Linked DNA regions of Homo sapiens. The main gene of each other region encodes a partner of the protein of the gene in region 2 in a complex. Each region holds a gene or a part of one and is shown on either strand. Other genes may lie near its edges.

What was found. Proteins that work in one complex are often made in the same cells at the same time.
Region 1: PBRM1 (region 2) and SMARCC1 share a complex: the UniProt entries of both Homo sapiens proteins name them as parts of the SWI/SNF-B (PBAF) chromatin remodeling complex.
Region 3: PBRM1 (region 2) and SMARCC2 share a complex: the UniProt entries of both Homo sapiens proteins name them as parts of the SWI/SNF-B (PBAF) chromatin remodeling complex.

What each region holds. Positions count from the first base shown.
Region 1 is NC_000003.12:47,584,769-47,590,163, reverse strand, and holds the end of SMARCC1 (SWI/SNF complex subunit SMARCC1), read left to right. Parts: intron 1-1,857; coding exon 1,858-1,955; 3' UTR 1,956-4,895; downstream 4,896-5,395. UniProt on the Homo sapiens protein: Involved in transcriptional activation and repression of select genes by chromatin remodeling (alteration of DNA-nucleosome topology).
Region 2 is NC_000003.12:52,682,748-52,690,327, forward strand, and holds the start of PBRM1 (protein polybromo-1), read right to left. Parts: upstream 3,167-7,580; 5' UTR 3,002-3,166; intron 2,853-3,001; exon of another isoform or gene 2,689-2,852; intron 2,168-2,688; exon of another isoform or gene 1-2,167. Other genes in the region: GNL3 (guanine nucleotide-binding protein-like 3), read left to right, coding at 3,346-3,358, 4,022-4,080, 4,499-4,636, 4,755-4,868, 5,362-5,445, 6,327-6,459. UniProt on the Homo sapiens protein: Involved in transcriptional activation and repression of select genes by chromatin remodeling (alteration of DNA-nucleosome topology). Required for the stability of the SWI/SNF chromatin remodeling complex SWI/SNF-B (PBAF).
Region 3 is NC_000012.12:56,161,859-56,165,753, forward strand, and holds the end of SMARCC2 (SWI/SNF complex subunit SMARCC2), read right to left. Parts: intron 3,842-3,895; coding exon 3,460-3,841; intron 2,874-3,459; coding exon 2,445-2,873; intron 1,908-2,444; coding exon 1,831-1,907; 3' UTR 501-1,830; downstream 1-500. UniProt on the Homo sapiens protein: Involved in transcriptional activation and repression of select genes by chromatin remodeling (alteration of DNA-nucleosome topology).

The DNA of each region.
Region 1 (5,395 bases), 5.1 Mb from region 2:
AGAGGAAATACGAAGTTCCAGCAAGCTCAATGAGGACAACACTAGTGCTGCTAAGTGATACTTGTCTGAGGCTGTGTTTAGAGACCAGGTCATTTCTCCCATAGGCTCTTGCTCGGCTTCAGCCTTGGCCTGAGGGTTGTTTCTGAGACCCTGGCCTGCCTTTTACTCCAGAAGGCCTTCCCAGTGAGGATGATGCTGAAATGCAGCCAGTAGTAGGTCAGGTACCCCAGCCACATCTGTAATCTTAGGTTCATGTAGAAGTTCACGTGTGGCCAAAAGTTTAGCTACTATTTATAGTTCAGAGAGATAGGAAGCATAAGAATTCTTGCTCTGTAGGAGCTTTAGTTGAGAAAACAAGAAATGAAAACTTGGATAGAACTTAGCAAATGAAGGCATATAGAACTTACCAAAGGTTACATGAGACTGTGATGTGCCTTAAGTACACTCTAATACTCTGGGAGGCTTCATGGACAGAGACATGTCTGACTCTTCTCTGGCCCCCAGAGTCTGGGACAAAGTAGGTGCACAGAAGAAAGACACTAATTTATCTAGGTATATAAGATCACAACAACTTTTTAAAATTATCTCCCTTAAGCTAGTGGTCAGTGGTTGTGTAGTACAGTAGGTACCTCTTTTTCTTGGCAAGAAAATGTTTGCCAAGCCACCCTGTGGACCATACATAAATGAGCTCGCCTATCAAGAGAGTTGACCAGTTTTCCATCCCTATTGCAGAGGTAGTATCACTGGTCTTTACCAATTTACCACTGTCATGTCCTGCTGGTCACCCATGTTTTGTACTTCAGGATTCCTTCCCAAAGGGACCTCAGTAGAGCTCCTTGAGAATGTGGAGGGTTTCAGGTGGAACCTTCCCACCTGCTGCCTGGTTCCTGCCATAAGTCAGTGCTCTGGAATTCTGAACCATGTGAATTGGTTCTAGGATACTAGGTAGGCCACACTGGATGAGTTGCTTCTCCACTTCAGCCCTTCATTTCCTCCACTGAAAGATGACACAAGGGATTAGATCAGTGAGCTTCAGAATGCTTTCAAGAGTCTTAAGGGTTTGGTAGAAACCTCTTGGGCATAGAGTTGGGTGAATTGATTGGTGAGCAATGCTGCACTTTATTTCATATGTTTTCAATTCTGACAAGATCTAGGGGTTTTTAAAACCCGGATTAAATGATCTCTCGGGTTCTTTTGTACACTAAAGCAGGTAAAGTTGAAATAGGAAAGAGTCCCAGACACTCATACTAATTGTTCCCTTCAGGACATGACCTAGTTTGGGCCAAAAATCGAAGGACTGCAGTTCAGGAGCTGTGGAGGCCTCCCTGGACTATCCAGTTTGTCAGCAACTGCCTCAAGTGAAGCTCTCTGGCCCTGGTGGAGACATTTATATAGCAAGAATTTATTGATAATCTATTTTGTGCCCAGCTAGGCTAGGGACTGTGGGGGCGGGGGGGGGGCGGGAAGAAAAACAAGACATAGAACTGTCCCAGGAAGGAGCTTATTTTTTAACTGAAGAAATAAAATTAGAACCCTTGAAATACAATGCAATCAAAATTAACTTCTGAAAGGGCCTGGAGCGATTCTTGGAAGGAGTTGGCCTGGAAGGAGGGTGGGGGAAATTCAGACACCTCCCACTCCCCAGCCACTAGGGTTAGGCTAAGCAACTTGAGCAGTGCCCTAGAGGTTCAGAAGGAATTGACTTGCATAGACCACAGTGGAATCAATGCCTCACAGGGTGCATTGGTTGCCTGCCACTAAGGAAAGGACTTCTGTGTCTTTTTTTCACTGAATAGGCTCTTTCCTGAGTCTCTTGTATTTCCAGCAATAACGAGTTACTCTTGGATATGTTTGCAGATCCCCCTCCACCACAGCAGCAGCCACCGCCACCACCACCTGCAGATGGGGTCCCTCCGCCTCCTGCTCCTGGCCCGCCAGCCTCAGCTGCTCCTTAGCCTGGAAGATGCAGGGAACCTCCACGCCCACCACCATGAGCTGGAGTGGGGATGACAAGACTTGTGTTCCTCAACTTTCTTGGGTTTCTTTCAGGATTTTTCTTCTCACAGCTCCAAGCACGTGTCCCGTGCCTCCCCACTCCTCTTACCACCCCTCTCTCTGACACTTTTTGTGTTGGGTCCTCAGCCAACACTCAAGGGGAAACCTGTAGTGACAGTGTGCCCTGGTCATCCTTAAAATAACCTGCATCTCCCCTGTCCTGGTGTGGGAGTAAGCTGACAGTTTCTCTGCAGGTCCTGTCAACTTTAGCATGCTATGTCTTTACCATTTTTGCTCTCTTGCAGTTTTTTGCTTTGTCTTATGCTTCTATGGATAATGCTATATAATCATTATCTTTTTATCTTTCTGTTATTATTGTTTTAAAGGAGAGCATCCTAAGTTAATAGGAACCAAAAAATAATGATGGGCAGAAGGGGGGGAATAGCCACAGGGGACAAACCTTAAGGCATTATAAGTGACCTTATTTCTGCTTTTCTGAGCTAAGAATGGTGCTGATGGTAAAGTTTGAGACTTTTGCCACACACAAATTTGTGAAAATTAAACGAGATGTGGAAGGAGAACCTCAGTGATTTTATTCCCTAGTGAGGCCTCTGAGGGCCTCCACACTGCCTGGCAGAACATACCACTGAACTAGTATGTGCTAGAGGAGGGCACAAACATCCGCTCCTTCCCTAGGCCTGCTGGCTCTGGTTTTCTATGCAGATGATTCATTGGATTGGGGGTGAGTGTTTTGTTTTTCTGGGGGCAGTGTGAGCTTTGAGGGTTGGAATATTGGGAGGCATTCCTTAGTTTCCTCAACTAGCCTGGAAAGTTAGGAGTCTAGGGTAATTACCCCCAATGAGTCTAGCCTACTATTCACTGCTTTGTGTGCATTTTTTTCTCCCTCTTTAAAAAACCCTTTAAAAGAAAAAAAAAAGTAGATAGTGCTAAATATTTTAGCTCATGAAACTTGGTTAGGATGGCTGGGGGTACAAGTCCCCAAACTACCTCTTGTTACAGTAGCCAGGGAGTGGAATTTCGTCAACCGGTACTTTTAAGGTTAGGATGGGACGGGAAAAGTGAAGCAGGATATTAGCTCCTTATACCTTCTCCCTTCCATTTCTGAGATCTCACATTCCATCTATCACAGGGTTTTCAAAGAGATGCTGAGGGTAACAAGGAACTCACTTGGCAGTCAGAGCATCATGCTTTGAGGTTTGGGGTGCTCAGGCTGGGAGGGTAGAATGCCATTCCAGAGGACAAGCCACAAAAATGCCTTAATTTGAGCTCGTATTTACCCCTGCTGATAAGTGACTTGAGAGTTCCCGGTTTTTTCCTCTTGTCCTTCCCTCCCTTCTGTCCTTCCATGTGTGGGGAAAGGGTGTTTTTGGTAGAGCTTGGTTTCCAAAGCGCCTGGCTTTCTCACTTCACATTCTCAAGTGGCAGTTTCATTATTTAGAATGCAAGGTGGACATCTTTTGGATATCTTTTTCTATATATTTTCTAAAGCTTTACATATGAGAGGGTATAGGGAGGTGTTTATAAAACACTTGAGAACTTTTTTCCTTAATATCAGAAAGCAAAAAAATAAAACCACAATTGAGATTTGCCTTTCAAACCCTCAGGTTTGCCTCTAACCAGGTGTCCCTGGTCACCATCAGAGTACTGGAATACGGGAACCGAGGAGACCTTGGTCCTTTTGTTTTTGTTCTGGACTCTTGGGAGTGGAAATGAGAATGAGTTTATTCCTACTGGAGCTTAGTTCCAATGCATTTGGCTCCAGAAAGACCCCAGTGCCTTTTGACAATGGCCAGGGTTTTACCTACTTCCTGCCAGTCTTTCCCAAAGGAAACTCATTCCAAATACTTCTTTTTTCCCCTGGAGTCCGAGAAGGAAAATGGAATTCTGGTTCATACTGTGGTCCCTTGTAACCTCAGGTCTTTAATGTGATCACTTTCAAATTTAAAAGATCCAGGTGGAAATATTTTTACTATAGTAATAATTCTACAAAATACCTGAATTCTTAACACTGTTATATTTCAGTATAAGTGGTGGCTTTTTCTTTTCATGTCTTTGATCTGGTTTTATTCCTGTAATTCAGCCACCTGATTTTGTGAGGGGGGGGAATAATATGTGGTTTTTGTACAAACATGTTTCTCAGTGTGTTGTTATTTTGGAAAAAATGAGGGGAGGGAGTTTGGCAAGAATGGAGAAAATGAATGAAGAAGGCCTAATCTCTCTCTTTTTCAGTGAATAAATGGAACACCATTTCTGGATTCTAGTCCCATTCTCTGCATTCATACACCAGTTTCTTCATATATCCTATGAAGAACCTAAACATTTGGCCCCACCTGGTCTTGGTTTGATCAGCAGTTAAAATTCTGTGACTCGGGCTTCCTTCCCGACTGCCCACCTTCATGATGTGTAAGGAACATACATTTTGAGGGTACCTCACCCACTGTTCATTTGCATGGTCAAAGTGAAAATGAGTGGAAGTTCTCCAAAAATGATGGCCAACATCCTGGCACCTCCAGGTGTGAGAAATAGCTTTGCTTGGTGAATGGGATAATGTTTGTCAGGATGCAGTTTAGACAGTCCCAAGTTGGAGGCAGGCCTTGAGGGCAGAAGATTCTGTGAACCTTGGGGGACAGCTTTTGGGTACTCACAGATATAAACCCTGTGCAGAAAAAAAGAAGTGATTGTTTTCAGGATGCTTATAAATCGAGTGAAGCAAAAGAAGAGGATTCTGTGTCTGCCATGAGATGAACGCCCTGCTCTTCACGAAGGTGTGCCTCTAATAAAGAGAGCCAAAGCCAGCTGGGTCTCACCAGATTCCTATACTTTCTCAAGGATGTTGGGGGAGGTTAATCCTTTATCGAAACTAAAGACTGGTTTATAAACTTGTGTGTGAATTATTTTTAGAATATTGGAGGACATGCAAGATCAACCAGTCTTACATAGGTTCCCTGGGTCCTTACCATGGAGTAATTCCCCCACATTCAATTAAGAATAGTTTAGGCTGGGTGCAGTGGCTCACGCCTGTAATCCCAGCACTTGCATTTTGGGAGGCCGAGGTGGGCTGATACCTGAGGTCAGGAGTTTAAGACCAGCCTGGCCAACATGGTGAAACCCTGTCTCTAGTAAAAACAAAAAATTAGCCAGGCATGGTGGCACGCACCTGTAATCCCAGCTGCTCAGGAGGCAGAAGTTGCAGTGAGCTGAGATCACGCCACTGCACTCCAGCCTGGGTGATAGCGAGACTCCATCTCAAAAAATTAAGTTTATTTTTTTAGAGGTGGGGTTTTGCTCTGTCACCCAGGCTAGAGTACAGTGGCACGATCATAACTCACTGCAGCCTCAACCTCCTGGACTCTAGTGATCTTCCCACCTTAGCCTCCCA
Region 2 (7,580 bases):
CTCTCAGATCTGTTTCATCTCTAAAATAAGAACGTAATGCCGGGAGTGGTGGGTCATGCCTGTAATCCCAGCACTTTGGAAGGCCGAGGCCAGTGCATCACTTGGAGTTCGAGACCAGACTGGCCAACGTGGTGAAACCCTGTCTCTACTAAAGAAAAATACAAAAATTTAGCTGGGTGCGGTGGCTCATGTCTGTAATCCCAGCGCTTTGGGAGGCTAAGGCGGATGGATCACCTGAGGTCAGGAGATCAAGACCATCCTGGCTAACACGGTGAAACCCCGTCTCCACTAAAAATACAAAAAAAATTGGCTGGGCTTGGTGGCACGCACCTGTAATCCCAGCTACTTGGGAGACTGAGGCAGGAGAATCGCTTGAACCCGGGAGGCGGAGGTTGCAGTGAGCCGAGATGGCACCACTGCACTCCACCCTGGACGTCAGAGCAAGACTCTGTCTCAAAAAAATAATAAAAAAAAAAATTAGCTGGCTGAGGCAGTGCATGCCTGTAAACCCAGTTACTTGGGAGGCTGAAGCATGAGAATTGCTTGAACCCAGGAGGCAGAGGTTGCAGCAAGCCGAGATCATACCACTGCACTCCAGTCTGGGTGACAGAGCGAGACCGTCTCAAGAAAAAAAAAAAAACAACATAAAGTGAAATCACTTCTGCATGTTCCCCAGGCACAGGAACAGCATATTCATTTTTGTAGACCTGTCTTACAGGATAGTATTTGGTATAGGTTATGTGCTCAGTTTATCTTTTAATAAATGTATTAAAAGTGCACTTAGGGCCAGGCACAGTGGCTCATGCCTGTAATCCCAGCAATTTAGGAGGCTGAGGTGGGCAGATCACCTGAGGTCAGGAGTTCAAGACCAGCCTGGCCAACACGGTGAAACCCCGTCTCTATCAAAAATACAAAAAATTATCTAGGCAAGGTGGTGGCATGCACCTGTAATCCCAGGCACTCGAGAGGGTGAGGCACGAGAATTGCTTGAACCAGAGAGGCAGAGATTGCAGTGAGCTGGGATTGCGCCACTGCACTCCAGGCTGGGGGACAGAGTAAGACTGTCTCCAAAAAAAACAAAAAAAAAGTGCACTTGAGACCTTCAAAAAAAAAAGTTTATTTGTATAGTTTAAAAGTCCTCAGCCAGGCACAGGGGCTCATATCTGTAGTCCCAGCACTTGGAGAGGCTGAGGCAGGATGACCGCTTGAGGCAGAGAGTTCAAGACCAGACTGGATAACATAGATTGATCTTTTCTCTACAAAAATTAAAATTAGCTGGGTGTGGTGCTGCACATCAGTAATCCCAGCTACTTGGGATGCTGAGGTGAGAGGACTGCTTGAGCCTAGGAGCACAAGGCTTCAGTGAGCCATGATCACTTTACTGAACTCCAGCCTGGGCAACAAAGTCAGACCTTGTCTCAAAAAAAAAAAAAAAAAAAAAAAAAAAATGCCTGTAAGCATCCCTTCAGCAATTTTGTCTTTCCATGAAGAGGAAAGACAGATTCCAGAGTTCAATGCCAAGTTTTAAAATGGCCTTGATTACAGTTACAAGTTCAAAAGTCTAACAATCAATAATTTATAGTGGACAGTTAAGAATACTTAATAATGTGCAACTGGGAGAATATCGACTTACTATAGACAAACAGTGTATTTCGACCGTTTATGAACTTTAGCCCTCTCCTATATTTCTAGTAATATTTAGCAATACAATACATGTTTAAAACAAAATCTTGGAAAACAGGACTCAAAGGAAAAAAAACACCTATAAACCTACTTCCAAGAAAAAAACCACTCTTAACGTTGTCATTCGGTTTTTGGTATTTATGCCTTAGTTACCTATTATTTTTTACCAAAATGTTAACAAACCACATATATTATTCTACAGCCTGTGTTTTAGTGAAGGTTCTTCCAAGTCAACATTCTTCCTCATGATGTTTGATGACTTGATAGTAATCTATCATATAGATACACCACAATTTACTTATCTTGGGAATTTTGGTAGGATATTAACATTTGAGGTATTTTGTACATTCCCAAAGCCAAAGAAAGCGGTCAAGGCCCTTCCATTCATCCACACATAAACTCTTTATTGTTTTAATTTGAAACACCTCTTCAAAACATATTTTCCAATCTTCCATTTTGGAGCTCAAAATCAAATATGGGCGACCTGTAAGTAATAAAGCAAAAATTATGCTACTCTTTTATGTGCATGAGTCCAATTTGCACTTTTTGGGGAAAAGCACATAGCCAAATGGAGAAAAAAATAATACCTAAAATTATTTGTCAAGAATCCTGTGTTGGAAAGTAAGTTAATTAAAACAATTCACCCCAACATACGCTTCTATAATTATTGTAAGAATTTCTATATCCACTATACCGTGTACTTATTTTTCAGGGCTTTTTCTATATTTTTGCAACTCTTTCTTCCCCTTTAAATTAAAACTTATTATAATAACAAAACTGTGCTTCCCCAAACCAAGAAATATACACAGTTCCCAAAATCCCGGATTCTTTGTGGTGTTGAGAAGCTGAAATATCTGGCCTCTACTATAAATACAAGTCCCATTGATTAAAATACCCGGAAAAAATACGGAAAGAAAATCACTAAGAGTTTGTGTCGAACCGTCAAGAAACCACAACAAAAAAAAGAGGCCCTGAGCAACGGAGGAAATGAAGGACTTTCCCGACCTGTCACTGGTATTGGGGACTGAGGGAAACGTTGACAGCTTTGAAGCTGCCCCGCGACGAGCGGGAAAGAGGAGCGCGGGGAGTTTCCGACCCGTAGTGCGCCTTTGTCCCTGCCGGCAGGTGCGACAAGGCTACTGGGCCCATCCGGAGGCCAGCCGCCGCGCCCCGCCCAACCCCGCGCGCCCGGCCCGACCCGCGCGTCCCCACGGCCGGGGCGGGGCTTCCGCCGCGGCTCCCGCCCGCCCGGGCCCACACAAAGGCCCGGCAGCTGACCAAGGGGGAGCGGCCCCACCCGCCCTGGGCCCGGCCTTACCCAGCCGCTCCGCCGCCTGCAGCCCCGGCCGCGGTCACCGACCGCCGCGCCCCGCCCCGTGGCCGCCACGGCTGCTGCTATTGCTCCTCCGGCCGCGGCCGCTGCCGTCGCTTCGGCACCCGCCGCCCTCACCTCCCTTACCCCTCCCGGTGCCGCCGCAAAACCAGTCCCGCGGCCGCCAAGCGATCCCTGCTCCGCGCGACACTGCGTGCCCGCGCACGCAGAGAGGCGGTGACGCACTTTACGGCGGCAGCGTAAGTGCGTGACGCTCGTCAGTGGCTTCAGTTCACACGTGGCGCCAGCGGAGGCAGGTTGATGTGTTTGTGCTTCCTTCTACAGCCAATATGAAAAGGCCTAGTAAGTGGGGTCGGGAGGCGGGCGTGGAGGGACCCACGTCTGGAAGTTGCTGCAGCCACCACGACGCTCTTCTACGGCTACGGCTTTGTCTCTGCTGGTATGGGGGTGGGAGCCTACGCGTAGGCCTTGGCCCTATTTCCTGGTAGAACCGAGAGTTGGAAGTCCCTACGGCGATCATGTTAACCGCGCGGGCTCATTCTGCGGAACGAAGCCGGGCAGAGGGTGGGGAAGACTAGGCTAGATTTTCGTAAGGAAGCAGCGTCTGAGCCAGGTTTGAGGCCCAATATTTTCTTTCCGTGGCCACGTGCAGACTGGCCCAGGTGAGAGCTGAGAATCGCCTCCCAGACTCAGTGTTCCTCTCCTGCCTTATGATTCGTGCTGTTTGACACGAAGTGGTTGTCGTTTTGTGTCTCATACGCTGTTGTGTATGATCCCATTCTAATATTGTGAGGGTAAGTGCAGGGAATTTTGACTCCATTCTGGATCTACTGAATTTAATTCTCTGGGATTTGAAAGTAGCACGTATGTTTGCATTAGGCATTTCGCATTAGACTTAACGTTAGGTTTGGTAGCCAATAACACAAGAAAAGGATATAACTCCATAGTGCGTTAACCCAGAACTAATCATTTGGGTTAACAGATTTGTGATGTGTTTCTTTGTAGAGTTAAAGAAAGCAAGTAAACGCATGACCTGCCATAAGCGGTATAAAATCCAAAAAAAGGTAAGTGTAGTGCTTGAGAGAGCTGTACCAAACACATTGCTAAACTGATTTTGCCCTGTTCCTTTGCGGGAAAGTCTGGGTTAATGTGATTTGGTTTTGGGAAATGGCATTGGATAGACTGACCATGGGCACAAGCTCTTAGGCATCAGGAGTGCAGCTGTGAGAAAGTGCAGTGATTTGGTGATAAGTCTCTAAATTTGTTCAGCATGTTAATCTCTGCATAGAGAGCCTTCTAGTTACAATTTCTTGCTGTTTTATACTTACATATGCATTACTTTGTAAGATTCCAATTAAAGCTCCATTTTCCTAGGACATTTTATAGGCATAACTAAATTGCAGCCAGATTGGTTTCTCACTTGAATTCTGCTTAAGTATAAAGATATTTTTGTAAGCAGACAAAATCTCTTTATTTTAATAGGTTCGAGAACATCATCGAAAATTAAGAAAGGAGGCTAAAAAGCGGGGTCACAAGAAGCCTAGGAAAGACCCAGGAGTTCCAAACAGTGCTCCCTTTAAGGAGGCTCTTCTTAGGGAAGCTGAGCTAAGGAAACAGAGGGTAAGTTATGTTAGCCAGAATTTTCATTGAGTGGTGTAGTGTGTTATGTGTGATATTTTTCAGAGTAAGGTAACAACACTAGTCACTGGTTCACCTATTTCCCTTATGGCTCTGACAGCTTGAAGAACTAAAACAGCAGCAGAAACTTGACAGGCAGAAGGAACTAGAAAAGAAAAGAAAACTTGAAACTAATCCTGATATTAAGCCATCAAATGTGGAACCTATGGAAAAGGTATGATTAGGTCTCTTTATGAATGAGAGATCAGGGGTTTTGATTTTGGTTTTTTTGCTTGGGCCTGAGTGCAGTGGCACAATCACAACTCACTGCAACCTGGACCACCCAGGCTCAAGCAGTCTTACCACCTCAGTCTCCAAGTAGCTGGGACTACAGAAGCACACCATCACGCCTGGCTAATTTTTTTTAGCAGACACGGGCTTTCACTATATTGCCAAGGCTGGTCTCAAGTGATCCACCCAACTCAGCCTCCCGAAGTTTCTGGTATTACAGGTGTGGGCTGTTGTGCCTGGCTGAGAGATGAGTTCTGATGCAGAAATAAAAGCACATCCACAGGCTGCTGAGCTTCTTGGGAGGAAGACAACTGAGTTCAGACTCCATCTTACCTATTTAACAACTGCAAGGGCTGCTACTCAGCTGTGGAAAATGGAGTTAGAGGTTACAGTTGCTCTACTTCTAATTTTGTGTTATTTCCCCCTTTATCCTCTAGGAGTTTGGGCTTTGCAAAACTGAGAACAAAGCCAAGTCGGGCAAACAGAATTCAAAGAAGCTGTACTGCCAAGAACTTAAAAAGGTATCTTAGCCTAGGTCAGTGTCTGACAGTAGTAATGAGGTTTAAAAGACTCAAGTCATTTTTTTTTTAACCTTTTAAGATGAAGGGTGCATGTGCAGGTTTGTTATATGGGTAAACTTGCGTCATAGGGGTTTGCTGTACAGATTATTTCATCACCCAGGTATTAAGCCTAGTACGACATTAGTTATCTTTCCTGATCCTCTCCCTCCTCCCACCTTTTCACCAACAAATCATTTCGTGACTCGACTCTAGCTTATGCTGTTTAATGCCTTTCCTGCTATGTTTACCTGACGGAAATAGTTTCTTTGGTTCTAAATATTTGCACAAAACTGGTTCTGCCTGTAAGCATGATTTACAACATTAAAAAAAAACGTTGACATAGTGTTGAGATTGAGAAAGGTACATTGGAGTAAGCAGTGTCAGGCTAAAGGTCTCTAAAGTACTCTGTTGAAACCTAAGTGAAGGAGGACAACTTGGTGTAGTTGCTCTCCAGCACTCCCATCCCCAACATCCATTTTCCCAAGCTCACTCCCCCATGGATAGAACCTGACTGCCCCTCAGCAGCTTTTGGCAAGGCCAGAAGGACCTATCAAACTATATAATTCACTATGGGAGGATTCAGACAGGGATATTTGCATTTTTGAAATCCATCTTGATCAGAGACTGCTGAGCAAGCCTATGTTTTACTTTCCTGTGTGAGAAATGATGAGGGTCAACATTCTTCATACCAAAGTGAAGACATGAGATCCAACTCTGAGCTCACCCTGTTGCTAAATGGATAATGCCAGTACTCTCTTGTGGAAGGTATTACCAGAACAAGGGATGTAGTTCTGATCATTTTCTCCTTGATAATGTAGTTCTGGTCATTTTTTCCTTGATAGGTGATTGAAGCCTCCGATGTTGTCCTAGAGGTGTTGGATGCCAGAGATCCTCTTGGTTGCAGATGTCCTCAGGTAGAAGAGGCCATTGTCCAGAGTGGACAGAAAAAGCTGGTACTTATATTAAATAAATCAGGTGAGTAAAGAGGGTACCCTTTGTCTTCTGTGTACATGGGTGAGGTACGAGGAAACAGTCTGATAGTCACTGAAGACTGATTAGATCCAACTCTGATCTCAGCAAAGCCAGAGTACGTGCACTTTGCCAGAGACAGTGCTAGGCAGTGGGGAGCCAGGTGACTTTTACAACTGACTCAACTGGTTTCTACTATTCTTTTGCCATTCAGTATTTACCATCTTTTAAATAAAGAGTGTAAGCTGCTATACCCAGCTTATTGTGTAGTATATTTCATCTAGGAAGTGATGACAGTGTGACAAATTCCCCACACCTACACAATGTCGGGTATTAGTTCAAGAGTGAAATAAATTGGAACGTATGTGACAAAATATTTAAATGAAATGCATAATTATGCATCTGAGTTTGAGCAGCAGGAAAAAGAAAACCCAGAACAGAGAATTACAAAGCAGAAAATGGGAATGAGATCTAAAATTGTTGTTGGGGTTAAGAAACAATTGGCTGCTTGGGAGGCTGAAGTGGGCACATCACTTGAGGCCAGGAGTTCGAGAAAAGCCTGGCCAACACGGCGAAACCCCATCTCTACTAAAATACAAATATTAGCCGGGCATGATGATGGGCACTTGTAGTCCCAGCTACTCGGAAGGCTGAGGCAGGAGAATTGCTTGAACCCGGGAGGCGGAGGTTGCAGTGAGCCGATACTGTGCCACTGCACTCCAGCCTGGGCAACAACACTTCGTCTCAAAAATGAAGAAACAATTGGCTGCTAGCTAAAGGTAAATTCTGGAAACATAGCTCTAGGGTTAGTAGGGTTGTAATCCAGACGTTGAGTCTGTCCTGAAGTTTTCAAGTGAGCAATACAAGGGGAATTGAAATAGAGAAGTGCAGATGCTGAGCTCTGTTAAGATACGGGCAGTATGGTAGGGGAGCTTACCCTGCCCTGATTTTCTAGTTAAATCCTTTTGAAAGGACTGGGAAAATGTAAACCAGAGTAAAATCTATAGTTGCCAGATTTTGCAAATGCATCTCAACAAAATAGCCACATTGGAGCAAATGTCTTTTTCTTTTTTTCTTTTTGAGATGGAGGCTTGCTGTGTCACCCAGGCTGGAGTGCAGTGGCGCCA
Region 3 (3,895 bases), on a different chromosome or scaffold from region 2:
CTTCCAGCTCCTTAAATCTGGCCCCCGCCCTCCCAAGCTCCCAATAAGGCCTTTTGTGGGGAAGCCTGTGGAGTGTTTATTGGAGCTAAAGCCAGGCCATTATTAGCACTGCCTAAGCCTGTCCGTCACCTCAGCAGGGTGAAGGGCCAATTATAACAAAAGTAGGTAAGGGGCTTGCCTCCTCTCTAATAAGGGAAGGAGTGAAACCACTACTTCTGAAGGGACAGAGATACAAAATTCCATGTTGTGGGAATGTCCTTCCAAGTCTTAAACAGCTTTTAGGGCAGGTGAGAGCCTCTGCTCCTATACCAGCACATAGTCTCGACAGTTGTGCTGCCGTTCGTGTTTTGTGGGGAGGCGCAGTGTCTGTAGGCCGTGTGGCTTGCAGAGTGTCTTTCGGCCCAGGTAAACGCCGCTGTGAAGGACTCCAGGAAAGCTGCTCCCATCACAATCCCCCTGCCTGACAGCCACAGGTAAGAACACAGAATGCACCCACAAGATGGAACTGAAAGCAAATTAATTTATAAAAAAAAAAAAAAGAAAGAAAGAAAAAAAGAGAAAATTTACAGAAAACTTTGAACAGAAGAAAGGTGCTAAGACGCAGAGGGAGAGAAACATGGGGACATGAGGAACAAAGGGCCTGGTGGGAGGAACCAAGAAGAACCAGTGCAGAGCCTGGAGTCACACCTGCCTTCCCGTCACAGGGGAGAAGCTGGGACACGTGGAGCAGGAATGCGGGAAGCAGAGTTGAGCTGCGAGCCAAGGGTTGGTCCAACCCAAGGTTGGGCACCCTCTTCCACTGCTCCCAAATCCCTGCATCCTCATCTGGGGAGCCCCCAGCTATCAGCTGAAGTTCTCATAGTCTTGGTGGGAGAGGGAGGAAGCTAAGGGGTGACCCACCAAGTCATAATATGGAGGTGCTTAAGTGCTTTAAAAAACAATTTCAGGTTTTAAAACTTCACATCCTCTTATAGCTCCCTTCTCTGTGCCTTCCAGGAGTCCATGGATACAGCCCAGGGAAGGAAGGAGAACAGCCCCCAGTGCCCTTTCTTCTCCTATTACCTACCACAGAAATCCCCGAAATTAGGTTTTCCCCACCAAATACACATACGCTGACATCAACTAAGCAAGTGACTTTTAAAAACAAAACTGACATTCAGAGGGAAAGGAATCATTGGCTGAGCTGGGGTGGCCTAAAACAGCAACAATGAGGAAGCCGCAGGAGGGATTATTAGTACGAATGAACTCGAATAAGCTCAGCGTAGGGTGGGGGAGGGGAGTTGGGGCCTTGACTTAGTCACTAAAAAGGGGCTTGGGGAGAGATGGAATCTGCGCCCTGTTCTATCCCCAGAGCTCTCCCTGGAATCTTAATTCCCCTTTCCTAAAACTCACTCCCCCTCAAAAAATGTAAAAATTGGTTATTTTTTAGTGGGTAGAAGGGAGCTCCAATGTGGCTTTTTAAAATCTACTTTTTTTTTTTTTTTTTAATCCATAGAAAATGCAGTAGTTTGGAGGGAGGTGTACCCTTAGAAGTGGTTAATAGAACCTTGTATAAACACCTTTCACCAGCCCTTCCTTTAGGGCAGCATTCCCATCCTATCCTCTCTCCCAGACATTATAAACATCTTTTAAACAGAAGTCCTTGAATAATCTGATATAAAAATGCATGCCTCTGTTAGGCATGGTGAGGGCTTTGGAGGGGCGGAAGGAGCTTTCCTTACGTAGTGATGAACTCTCCAGGCTGGGGAGGGTCCCAGTGGTGGGGGAAGGGCTGTTCCTGGAACCGTGATGTCCACAGGGGGTGAGGGGGAGAGATGTCTGGCTGGCTCCTCACTGTGGAGGTGGCACAGGGGTGACCGTGCCTGGGCTCGGGGCTGTGGGGTCTGGAGGCAGGGGGGTGCCTGGGTCTGTGGAGAAAAGGAAGATAAATCAGTTAGAGTACGCCGGAGAGATGGCTCCAGACCCAGACCACCACAGACAGACAGAACCGGGCATGGCATGCAGTGGCTGGGTGGATGAATGAGGTACCCATAATGTTCAACTTCTGTTCCCAACACTCTTTTCTACCTCATACTCAGAAAAACATATAGAAAGACTCTCTATATGGGGCATTTGAACGTGATAGGAATAAGCAAAGGGATGCCACTCAATCATCATGCAAACAGCTGCTTTTCAAGTTTACAACTGAGATGCTCTCTGCCACAGGATTGCTCCATGACCCACCAGTGAAAGGCCCCAACATCATCCCAAAGGTGGCAGCTGCCAGGCTGGGGAATGGTGGAGGACGGCCAGAGAGGCCCTTCCTCCTGTATTCTAATTTTACCAGAGTGTTCAAAAAGGATTGTGGAAACTCTAATACCTGACCTCTTCCCCACCTGCCCGCTCACCCTCCCTCCAGGTGGACCCCTCTCCCTCACCCTTCTCCCCTCTTGGCCCCTTCTCACCTGGCAGTGGGCTGGCACTGGGCAGGAGGTTGCCCTGAACAGCTGCCACAATGGCAGGGCTTTGGGCTGCGGCGGATCCGAGCCCCGGCCCGAGAGGCAAGGAAGATGGCATGGTGGTGGTCGCCGGCAGGTTAGGATGTAGAGGGTTCGCCATGGACACAGGCAGGTTAGGTGGGGGGAGAGTGCCCGGGGCGAACGGGAGATGGTGGTGATGCCCATGCAGGTTAGGAGGAGCGGGGAGGTTAATACTGATGGAGTCAGCTAGACTACCAAATGGGATGATGGATGGAGCAGGAGGAGGAGGAGGAGGCGGCATGCCAAAAGGCAAACCCAAAGGAGCATTACCCGCCACGCCTGGGTGCCCGCTGCCTGGCACTGCCCCTGGCATCATTGAGGGAGGAGTTTGTTGGTTGGGGAACGGTGAGGGGCCTGAGAATAAAGATGAGAGATGGAGAAAATTAGGTATAAAATTTTGCTTAACAACTCACCTTTTCTATTTTTTTTTTAGACGGAGTCTCACTCTGTCACCAGGCTGGAGTGCAGTGGCACGATCTTGGCTCACTGCAACCTCCGCCTCCCGGGTTTAAGCAATCTCCTGCCTCAGCCTCCCGAGTAGCTGGTACTACATGTACGCACCACCACGCCCAGCTAATTTTTGTATTTTTACTAGAGACGGGGTTTCAACATGTTGGCCAGGATGGTCTCAATCTCCTGACCTCGTGATCCACCCATTTCGGCCTCCCAAAGAATAACTCACTTTTACAAACAAGGATAATCTAGCCATTCCTTGGCACTATCTTCCCCTTTTCTGACACTAGAGTAAGTGAATAAAATTCCAAAGCTCTCGAGTTTGGGGAAGGACTCCTGCTGATTTAGGGGCCTAAGAGAGATGGGCCCATCTGTAGAAATTGAGGCTAACCTCATCTCCACACTCATCTTGTATCCCCTTTGAGGAGAACTGGGACATTCACCTGGATTCCTCTAGCCAACAAAAGTTCTGGAACATAACACTTACCATGGGGTCCAGGGGGGGGAACCCCTGGTGGGACTGCCCCAGGCTGGGGGGCTCCAGCTGGTTGCTGCTGCTGTGGCCCTGCAGTTGACCCTGCCTGCCCAATCTGTTCAGAAGGGCCCAAACTTCCTGGAGGGGCCCCACTGCCAGCAGGAGCAGGGACTACAGAGGCTGGAGCCACAGCCAAGCCATGGACTGCGGGTGGCCCAGCAGCCCCTGTTGGGGGGATAGGCTGGGAGCCTGGGGGCAGGGCTGGTGGTGGCTGCTGCTGCTGTTGGTGCATCTGTTGGAAGTGCTGCTGCCGAGCCCTCATCTCCGCATACTTCAGCTGCTCCATGTGGAAGGCTTGTCTGTCGGCCAGGAGCTGCTGCCTCTGATACTCCAGCTGCCAGTGCCAATTGAGTATTGTTATCCAATTTTCAGCAGATCCCAAAGGCAA